Linked DNA regions of Homo sapiens: region 1 is linked to region 2. Evidence: fine-mapped expression QTL. A gene starts in region 2. The other region holds a variant in brackets. All regions are shown on one strand. Distances are between the middles of the regions.

Region 1 (4,391 bases), 26 kb after region 2:
ATGGAGTCTTGCTCTGTCGCCCAGGCTGGAGTGCAGTGGTAGGATCTCGGCTCACTGCAACCTCTGCCTCCCGGGTTCAAGCGATTCTTCTGCCTCAGCCTCCCAAGTAGCTGGGATTACAGATGCCCGCCACCTCACCTGGCTAAGTTTTTGTATTTTTAGTAGAGATGGGGTTTCACCATGTTGGCCAGGCTGGTCTCAAACTCCTGACCTCATGATCCACACGTCTCAGCCTCCCGAAGTGCTGGCATTACAAGCATGAGCCACCGTGCCCGGCCTCTTTCTTCTTTTCTTTCTTTCCTTGTTTTTTTTTTTTTTTTTTTTTGAGACAGTCTTGCTCTGTCTGGAGTATAGTGGTGCGATCACAGCTCACTGCAACCTCCACCTCCCAGGCTCAAATGATCCTCCCACCTCAGCCTCCCTAGTAGCTGGGACTACAGGTTCGTGCCACCATGCTTGGCTAATTCTGTAAGGTTTTTGTAGAGACGAGTTTTACTATATTGCTCAGGCTGGTCTCGAACTCCTGGGCTCAAGCAATCATCCTGCGTCAGCCTCCCAAATTGCTGGGATTACAGGTGTGAGCCCCTGCACTTGGCCTCCAAATGTTAATTTCTGAAAATGATCTGTTGGGTGCTGCACCTCTTCTTGAAGACACTATGTTTTATTGAGATTTATGTTAGAAAACCACTTTCCTTGGTACTGTTCTCAGAACTGCACAAATAAAACCCAAATGTAAACAATATAACTGAATTTCCTTGATCCTGAAATAGTTCTTCCTTGATTTGTGGGTAATGGCACACTCATTGAGCCATTCTGCTTGCTGGAAGGAGACTCACAGGGACAAATACTGTGTGTTAAGTCAGTGGAATTCTGAGCCTGACTCCATAGGCAGAACCAAAGCCTTGAGTCAATACAACATTAATTTTATTGGTACAATTGCTTAATTCAGACAACTGCCACAGACAGTGCTTGGTGTTGTGTCTCTGTCTCCATGAGCAAACAATCAATTAGAAGCATGTTCATTTAATTTGTTTGATAAGACATGCCTGGTATTTCCTATAAGCTGCCTCACTCTAGTGAGTGGGCAGCAAGCCAAGTTCTTCAGACTGCGAGAACTCAGTGTTCTCATTTAAACATTCCTTTACTTGTGAGTTGGAAACTTTTGGGCACATACATATGTACACATTTATCAATTTATTAATATCTATGTGCAGGCTCACCTTTCAACCCCTGCTCTGACTAATTTTGCTCTGTGGGAGAATTCATGGCTAATGGACATATTTTTTCACCACATTATTTTTTTAATTTTTATTTTTTTGAGACAGGGTCTCGCTCTGTTGCCCAGCCTGGAATGCAGTGGCAGAGTCATGACTTATTGCAGCCTTGACCTCCCAGGCTCAAGAGATCATCCCACCTCAGCCTCCCAAGTAGCTGAGACTGAGACGCAAGCCACCACGCCCCACTAATTTTTTTTTTCTAATTTTTTGTAGAGATGGAGTCTCACTACATTACCCAGGCCCATCTTGAACTCCTGGGCTCAAGCTGTCCTCCCACCGAGGCCTCCCAAAGTGTTGAGATTACAGGTGTGAGACACTACTTCTGGCTTAATGCCTTAAAATAACACTTTTCCTAGTTATACATGTTAAAACTTTGGAGATGAAAAATATAAAGGAAACAAAAATCACCTGTTATCCTACCACTCAGAACTAATTGCTATTAAAACTTCGATTATTATTATTATTTTGAGAAGGAGTTTTGCTCTTGTCACCCAGACTGGAGTGCAGTGGCGTGATCTCAGTTCCCTGCAAACTCCGCCTCCTGGATTCTCCTCCCTCAGCCTCTTGAGTAGCTGGGATTA[C/T]AGGCGCCTGCCACCATGCCCAGCTAATTTTTGTACTTTAAATAGAGACGAAGTTTCACCATGTTGGCCCGGCTGGTCTCGAACTCCTGACTTGAAGCGATCTGCCCACCTTGGCCTCCCAAAGTGCTAGGATTACAGGTGTGAGCCACCACGCCCGACCTAGAGTCTGACTCTTAAATGCTACATGACATCTCCCTGGAAAAGTAGATCAGGGAGCTCTGATTTACCAAGGAGTGCGTGTAGGGGCTGAGAAAAGGTAAGAACCTTTACCTTAAGACTTTATAGAATTCTCAAGGCTTACTGTTCTTTGTAGCCTGGTTATCTAGGCTAACATGTAACAATTGGTATCATGTAACAAAGGGCATGGGAAAGAACTGAATAAATACAATCATGGGCTTCATAACAAGGTTTTGGTCAATAATTGGCCCTGTATACCAGTAGTCTCCAACCTTTTTGGCACCAGGGACCAGTTTCTTTTTTTTGTTTGTTTGTTTGTTTTGTAATAGTTTTATAGGTTCATTTATTTATTACATTTAAATCTTTGCTTGTGTGAAATCTCTTTCAATGAAACTTGTGAGATAGGGATTTGAATTTATTTTTTCCAGTGGGCTACCCTATACTACAATACAATTCTGGATAACCTACCATTGCCCCTTTTTATTTTTTAGAGTCAGGATCTCACTCCATCACCCAGGCTGGAGTGCAGTGGTGCGATCATAGTGCACTACACCCTCAAGCTCCTGGGCTCAAGTAATTCTCCTACCTCAGCCTCCCAAGTATTAACAGGTAGGACTGCAGGCATGTGCCATCATGCCTAGCTAATTTTTTAAATTTTTGTAGAGACGGGTTTCAAACTCCTGACCTCAAGCAATTTTCCCACCTTTGCCTCAAAGTGTTGGGATGACAGGCGCGAACTATGACACCCTCCCTTCTCCATTGATTTGAAATGCCACTTTATGTATTTGGGTCATTTCTGGATGCTCTATGCTGTCTTATTCAAATGGATTAGTTATCCTAGCTTTATATTTTATTGGCTTGTTTAGCTATTTCTTTTCTTTTTTTTTTTTTATTGATCATTCTTGGGTGTTTCTCACAGAGGGGGATTTGGCAGGGTCATAGGACAATAGTGGAGGGAAGGTCAGCAGATAAACAAGTGAACAAAGATCTCTGGTTTTCCTAGGCAGAGGACCCTGCGGCCTTCCACAGTGTTTGTGTCCCTGGGTACTTGAGATTAGGGAGTGATGATGACTCTTAACGAGCATGCTGCCTTCAAGCATCTATTTAACAAAGCACATCTTGCACCGCCCTTAATCCATTTAACCCTGAGTGGACACCGCACATGCCCCAGAGAGCACAGGGCTGGGGGCAAGGTCACAGATCAACAGCATCCCAAGGCAGAAGAACCCCTCCCAGTACAGAACAAAATGAAGTCTCCCATGTCTACTTCTTTCTACACAGACACAGTAACAATCTGATTTCTCTATCTTTTCCCCACCTTTCCCCCTTTTCTATTCCACAAAACCGCCATCGTCATCATGGCCCGTTCTCAATGAGCTGTTGGGTACACCTCCCAGACGGGGTGGTGGCCGGGCAGAGGGGCTCCTCACTTCCCAGAAGGGGCGGCCGGGCAGAGGCGCCCCCCACCTCCCTCTCGGACGGGGCGGCTGGCCGGGTGGGGGCTGACCCCCACCTCCCTCCCGGACGGGGCGGCTGGCCGGGTGGGGGCTGAACCCCCACCTCCCTCCCGGAAGGGGCGGCTGGCCGGGCGGGGGCTGAACCCCCACCTGCCTCCCGGACGGGGCGGCTGGCCAGGCGGGGGCTGACCCGCCACCTCCCTACCAGGGACCAGTTTCATGGAAGACAGTTTTTCCATGGATCAAGGATGGGGGATGGTTTCAGGATGATTCAAGTACATTACATATATTGTGCGCTTTATTTATATTATTATTAAGCTGTATTATATAATGAAATAATTATATAGCTCATCATAGTGTAGAATCGGTGGGAGCTCTGAGCTTGTTTTCTTGCAACTAGGCGGTCCTATCTGGGGGTAATAGGAGACAGTGACAGATCATCAGGCATTAGATTCTCATAAGGAGCGTGCAACCTAGATCCCTCGCGTGCGCAGTTCACAGTAGGGTTCGTGCTCCTATGAGAATCTAATGCTGCCACCAATCTGACAGGAGGTGGAGCTCAGGTGGTAATGCAAGTGATGGGGGGTGGCTGTAAATACAGATGAAGCTTCGCTTGCTCACCCGCTGATCACCTCTGGTGGTGTGGCCTACTTCCTAACAGGCCGCAGACTGGTACTGGTCTGTGGCCTGGGGTTTGGGGACCCCACCTATATACAATGGGGCTCCCATGAGATTATAATGAGCTGATTATAAAGATTATAGAATTATAGCGATGTCATAGCTGTCTTAATGTCATAAGTTAATGTCATTATTGTTATGTGGTGTTGCTGGTGTAAATAAACCTACTGGGCTGTCAGTTGTATAAAAGTATAGCATAGGCCAGGCATGGTGGCCTACAC
Region 2 (4,391 bases):
GATGGTAGGATGGAGGCTTCTTGTTGCCCGAACAGCCCCGGCAGCCCAGTCAACAGTCAGTGTCTGCTCTGAGCAAAAAACCTTTTAGGTGCTGGAGAGCACAGATGCTGCAGGCAACCTGCAGCCTGGCCTCTTGAATCCTAGTACCTGGCTTTCAACTCGAAACCGTCTGAGCCTTCATCTGTACAGTGCGGATGAAAACAGCTCCTACCTCACAACATTATTGTGAGGATTAAATGAAATGATGTAAGAAAAAAAAATTTAGCACAGGGTAGGGGGCAGAGTAAGGATACTCTGTGTGGGTTTATACATTTCCAATGTTATGTGTGCGTTTATGCAGATAAAATTCAGAGTGGCTGAAGAGATGAATTTTTTTTTTTTTTTTTTGAGACAGTGTCTTACTCTCACCCAGGAGTGCAGTGTTGTGATCGCAGCTCACTGCAGCCTCTACTTCCTGGGCTCGGGTGATTCTCCCACCTTAGTCTCTCAGGTAGCTGGGACTACAGGCGTGTGCCACCATGCCCAGCTAATTGTTATTTGTAGAGATGGGGTTTTGCCATGTTGCCCAGGCTGGTCTCAAACTCCCGCGCTCAAGTGATCCTCCTGCCTCGGCCTCCCAAATTGCTGAGATTACAGGTGTGAGCCATGCCCTGCCATGAAAAGACTAACTCTAGACTGCAATGGCTTTGAATAATTTTCTAAACGTTTAGAGTTTAGATTTTATTCCGTATCACAATTTGGAGCCACGGAAGTGTTTTTTTGTTTGTTTTTTGTTTTTTAAAGTGACACCATTAAAAATTCATTAAATACAGCTGGCTATTATCTGGCTAGACGTCTAAGCAAACTTCTTGAATGTTTGGAAAACAGATTACACTTTCACTAAGACACCTGTTGGTTTACCACATACTTCTTATTTGAATATGATTAGCATCAGAAAGTCCCTATGCTCAAAAATACCTCTTTTATCAAATTAGATTAACAAACTGCATCCCGTAAGATGCAGTAACTTTTCTTAAGATCCAATGGCTAGAATATAGGAATTTGGGTTGGATTGGGAAGTGGGGGATAACGGTGGCAAAAAATTGAAGATTAAAAAACGAAATACAGGCCGGGTGTGGTGGCTCACGCCTGTAATCCCAGCACTTTGAGTGGCTGAGACGGGCGGATCACGTGAGGTTAGGAGTTTGAGACCAGCCTGGCCAACATGATGAAATCCTGTCTCTACTAAAAATACAAAAATTAGGAGGGTGTGGTGGCAGGCGCCTGTAATCCCAACTACTCAGGAGGCTGAGGCAGGAGAATCGCTTGAGCCCAGGAGGCGGAGGTTGCAGTGAGCCGAGATTGTGCCACTGCACTCCAGCCTGGGCGACAGAAGGAGACTCCGTCTCAAAAATAACGAATTACATGAGATTTATAAAAAGTTGGTAAATATAAATTCTGTAACGTAAACTTGGGTATATATGTGTATACACGAACAAACTGTGAATGAGACTGATTTTGTACCGTTTGGCCCAGAATTATTCACGCTCATTGAAATTAGTGCTCTTTTAAAAGATTCACATTGGGTTACTTATACATTTACTCCAAAGAAATTGCCATTTTCCCCTTACCTGCATCTGGCTGGCATAATCAACTGAACAATATTCTCTTTCTTCCCCTTTTTCACTTACAAGTGGGGCAGAAAGGGGAGGAGAGCAGTCCTCATTCTTTCAGCAAACTTACTGTGCACTTACAACGCGCGAAGGCGCTGTGCTCAGAGAAACAAAACCTAACCGGTTGTGGCCCTCGAGGGTGTGTGGGTGGGGAGAGCTGCAGCCACAGGAAACGGTAACACGGCGCGTAAAGGGCTCTAATTGAACTTAAGGACCAATGGGGCCACCAAGCAGGAAGTGACTGACTTGCCCGCGTGTGTCTGAACCGCCTTCACAGGGAGGCAACTTTTGAGTAATTGCGGGGCTGGAGGGTGGGGGCACTGGAGGGAACCGCGGGGAGGCGCCGGCTTCGGACGCGGAGTTGTGGGTGTGGGAGAGAGGCGACCCAGAAGCCGAGGCCCGAGGCGGGAGGGGGCTGCGCCCTGGCAAGAGGCTTTCCGGAGTATCTTCCATCTGTCAATACAGGCTACAGGACTCAGTGGCCCTAATTCGAGAACCAAACGTCCCCCGCCGGTCAGTCTTTTCCCCCAGGGCAGTCCCAAGGGCGGCGAGCCCGCGCGCACGAGAGCCGAGCGGTAGGAAGAGCCGAGAGCTAGCGGCCGGGGCCTCGGCGGGCCAGGGGCGCGGAGAGGCCGCCGGAGAAAGGACTAAGACACCGGTGGACCGAGCAGTTACTCCCGGCATGCTCCTCCTCCCCGGGCAGATTTCAAACCCTCTGCAGCCCCACCTCCGCGCCTTCGCCCCCGGCCAGCCCCAGCAACAGGCGGCGGCCCGCTTCTCATTGGCCAGGCCCGCGCTGTCGTGTTTTGATTGGCCGCGGAGCCTCCCGGCCCTGCTTCTGCAGTCGCTGCCGACTCCATTTTGTCGGTAGAGGCAGAAGGAGAAGGTCGGGTTGTAGAAGCTGGGGTGGCCGGCAGCTCGCTCATCGGTGTTCGTGGGCTTTGTCGGTCCGTGCCTCGTCTCTCCCTGGAAAGGGAGGGAGGCTTCGACGTCGAGAGGGAGCCGCTGCCGCGTTAGTTCCGAGCTTGAAGTCAGTAAGTAGCGGCTGCGCTAAGGGCGCGGCCATGTTGGTGGCCGCGCTCCCCATTGTTGGAGGAAGGAGGCGAGCGGAGGCGAGATCCGGGTAACCCGGGCGGGCGCGGGCGGTCACGGGCGGTCGCAGCGCCGCGACCCCTGCGGCTCCGGAGAGATGGGGCCACTGGGAAGCCAAGCCCTTGTGGCGTCGGAGGAGGCGTTTTCCGGGTTCGAGTTGGGAATTACTCACAGTCCGGAAATGGCAATTTATTTAGGGTTGTTTATCTGTTTGGAAAGCTCTCTTACCCCTTTGAAAGGAGGGGGCTTAACTATTTGGTAACTTATTTTCTTGGAACATCAAATTAAAACCAAACCTTGAAAGTTAAGCTGTTCCCTCTAGGGAGACATTTTTATATATTTAAGATGGGCTTAGACTGTTAGGGCTTGTGAGAACTTATTTTAAGACGGGGAGGAGGCGAGAGCGTTCATAACCAAAGGAAACACTGCGTGATGTCTACATGTTCCAAGAGACTGAAAATGGATGTGACATGTGTGGAAAGATTGGAAAATTCTGGTGGGAGTTTAAAAACACGGTCTCTTTAGAAAATCCGCCTGAAGCCAATTTTTTGATATGACTCAACATTTAACACTTCCTTGATTTTATACGCGAGAGAATCTGAAGGTCTTTCCCAGGAAAAAGATAAAGATAAAACTTATTGCGGGACTTGGAGACACTTACAAAAATTCCCCAGGAGTGACTGGATCTCAAGGGTGAAGAGTTTTTTTAAATGGTCGTGGTTATAAGGTCAAAGAAAGCCATCTTACGAGAAATTTTCTACCTTTTAGTTCAGGAAGTAGCCTTCTTTACAGTCAACGATTTTCGTAGTAAATCTAAATGATCACTTTCTCAACGTGTTTTTGAAATAATGAAGTAATCTTTACTTTTCTAGCTAGGACTTCTCTCAAACTTGTGTGCTGAGGAGACTCAGATGTTGGCCTCAGCTCCTAGGCTGAACTCAGCAGATCGGCCCATGAAAACTTCTGTATTGAGACAAAGGAAGGGATCTGTCAGAAAGCAACACTTGTTATCTTGGGCTTGGCAGCAAGGAAGAGGACAGGTAGTGGAGATCCTGCAATCTGAAAAGCAGACTGAAAGGTAATCATCATAATGGGCAAACATTTTATGATGGAACCATCCTAAACCAATTGTTTTTATTTTAAAATAGATTATGTAGATTTGTGGGTAAGCTCATTTTTCTTAGGGAAGGTATAACAATAAAGGTTGTGCATATATTGAAGTCTGAACGGCTTGCTTTTTTGAGTTTAAAGCAGCTGAATAGCCTGTTATTGAGTCTTGTCCAAAATATCTGGAGTTATAAGTTGGAGCCATAGAAGCTTCTTAAAGATTTTGAACTTTTCTTAATGGAATTTTACTCAATATTTGTTTCCATTCACTTGTAGGTGACAAAGAAGCTGAAGATGGGTGGTGGAGAGAGGTATAACATTCCAGCCCCTCAATCTAGAAATGTTAGTAAGAACCAACAACAGCTTAACAGACAGAAGACCAAGGAACAGAATTCCCAGATGAAGATTGTTCATAAGAAAAAAGAAAGAGGACATGGTTATAACTCATCAGCAGCTGCCTGGCAGGCCATGCAAAATGGGGGGAAGAACAAAAATTTTCCAAATAATCAAAGTTGGAATTCTAGCTTATCAGGTCCCAGG

Evidence for each region. PIP is the estimated chance that this variant, and not a neighbour inherited with it, causes the effect.
Region 1: its variant is the best candidate, but not a certain one, in a credible set for the expression of PNRC2 in whole blood (INTERVAL, PIP 0.81).

What each region holds. Positions count from the first base shown.
Region 1 is chr1:23,983,631-23,988,021 of GRCh38, forward strand. It overlaps LOC105378615 (a long non-coding RNA gene), which reads right to left and starts at 4,158. Exons shown (of 2, transcript XR_947070.1): 1 at 4,114-4,158; 2 at 3,778-3,902. The variant C/T (reference allele first, on the strand shown) is at 1,859.
Region 2 is chr1:23,957,313-23,961,703 of GRCh38, forward strand. It overlaps PNRC2 (proline rich nuclear receptor coactivator 2), which reads left to right and starts at 2,516. Exons shown (of 3, transcript NM_017761.4): 1 at 2,516-2,686; 2 at 3,617-3,822; 3 at 4,128-4,391. The coding sequence starts at 4,146. LOC124903877 (a long non-coding RNA gene) reads right to left here and starts at 802. Exons shown (of 4, transcript XR_007065541.1): 1 at 790-802. RefSeq lists enhancers at 746-1,374, 1,553-1,612, 2,513-2,782 and silencers at 1,693-1,792, 2,203-2,312.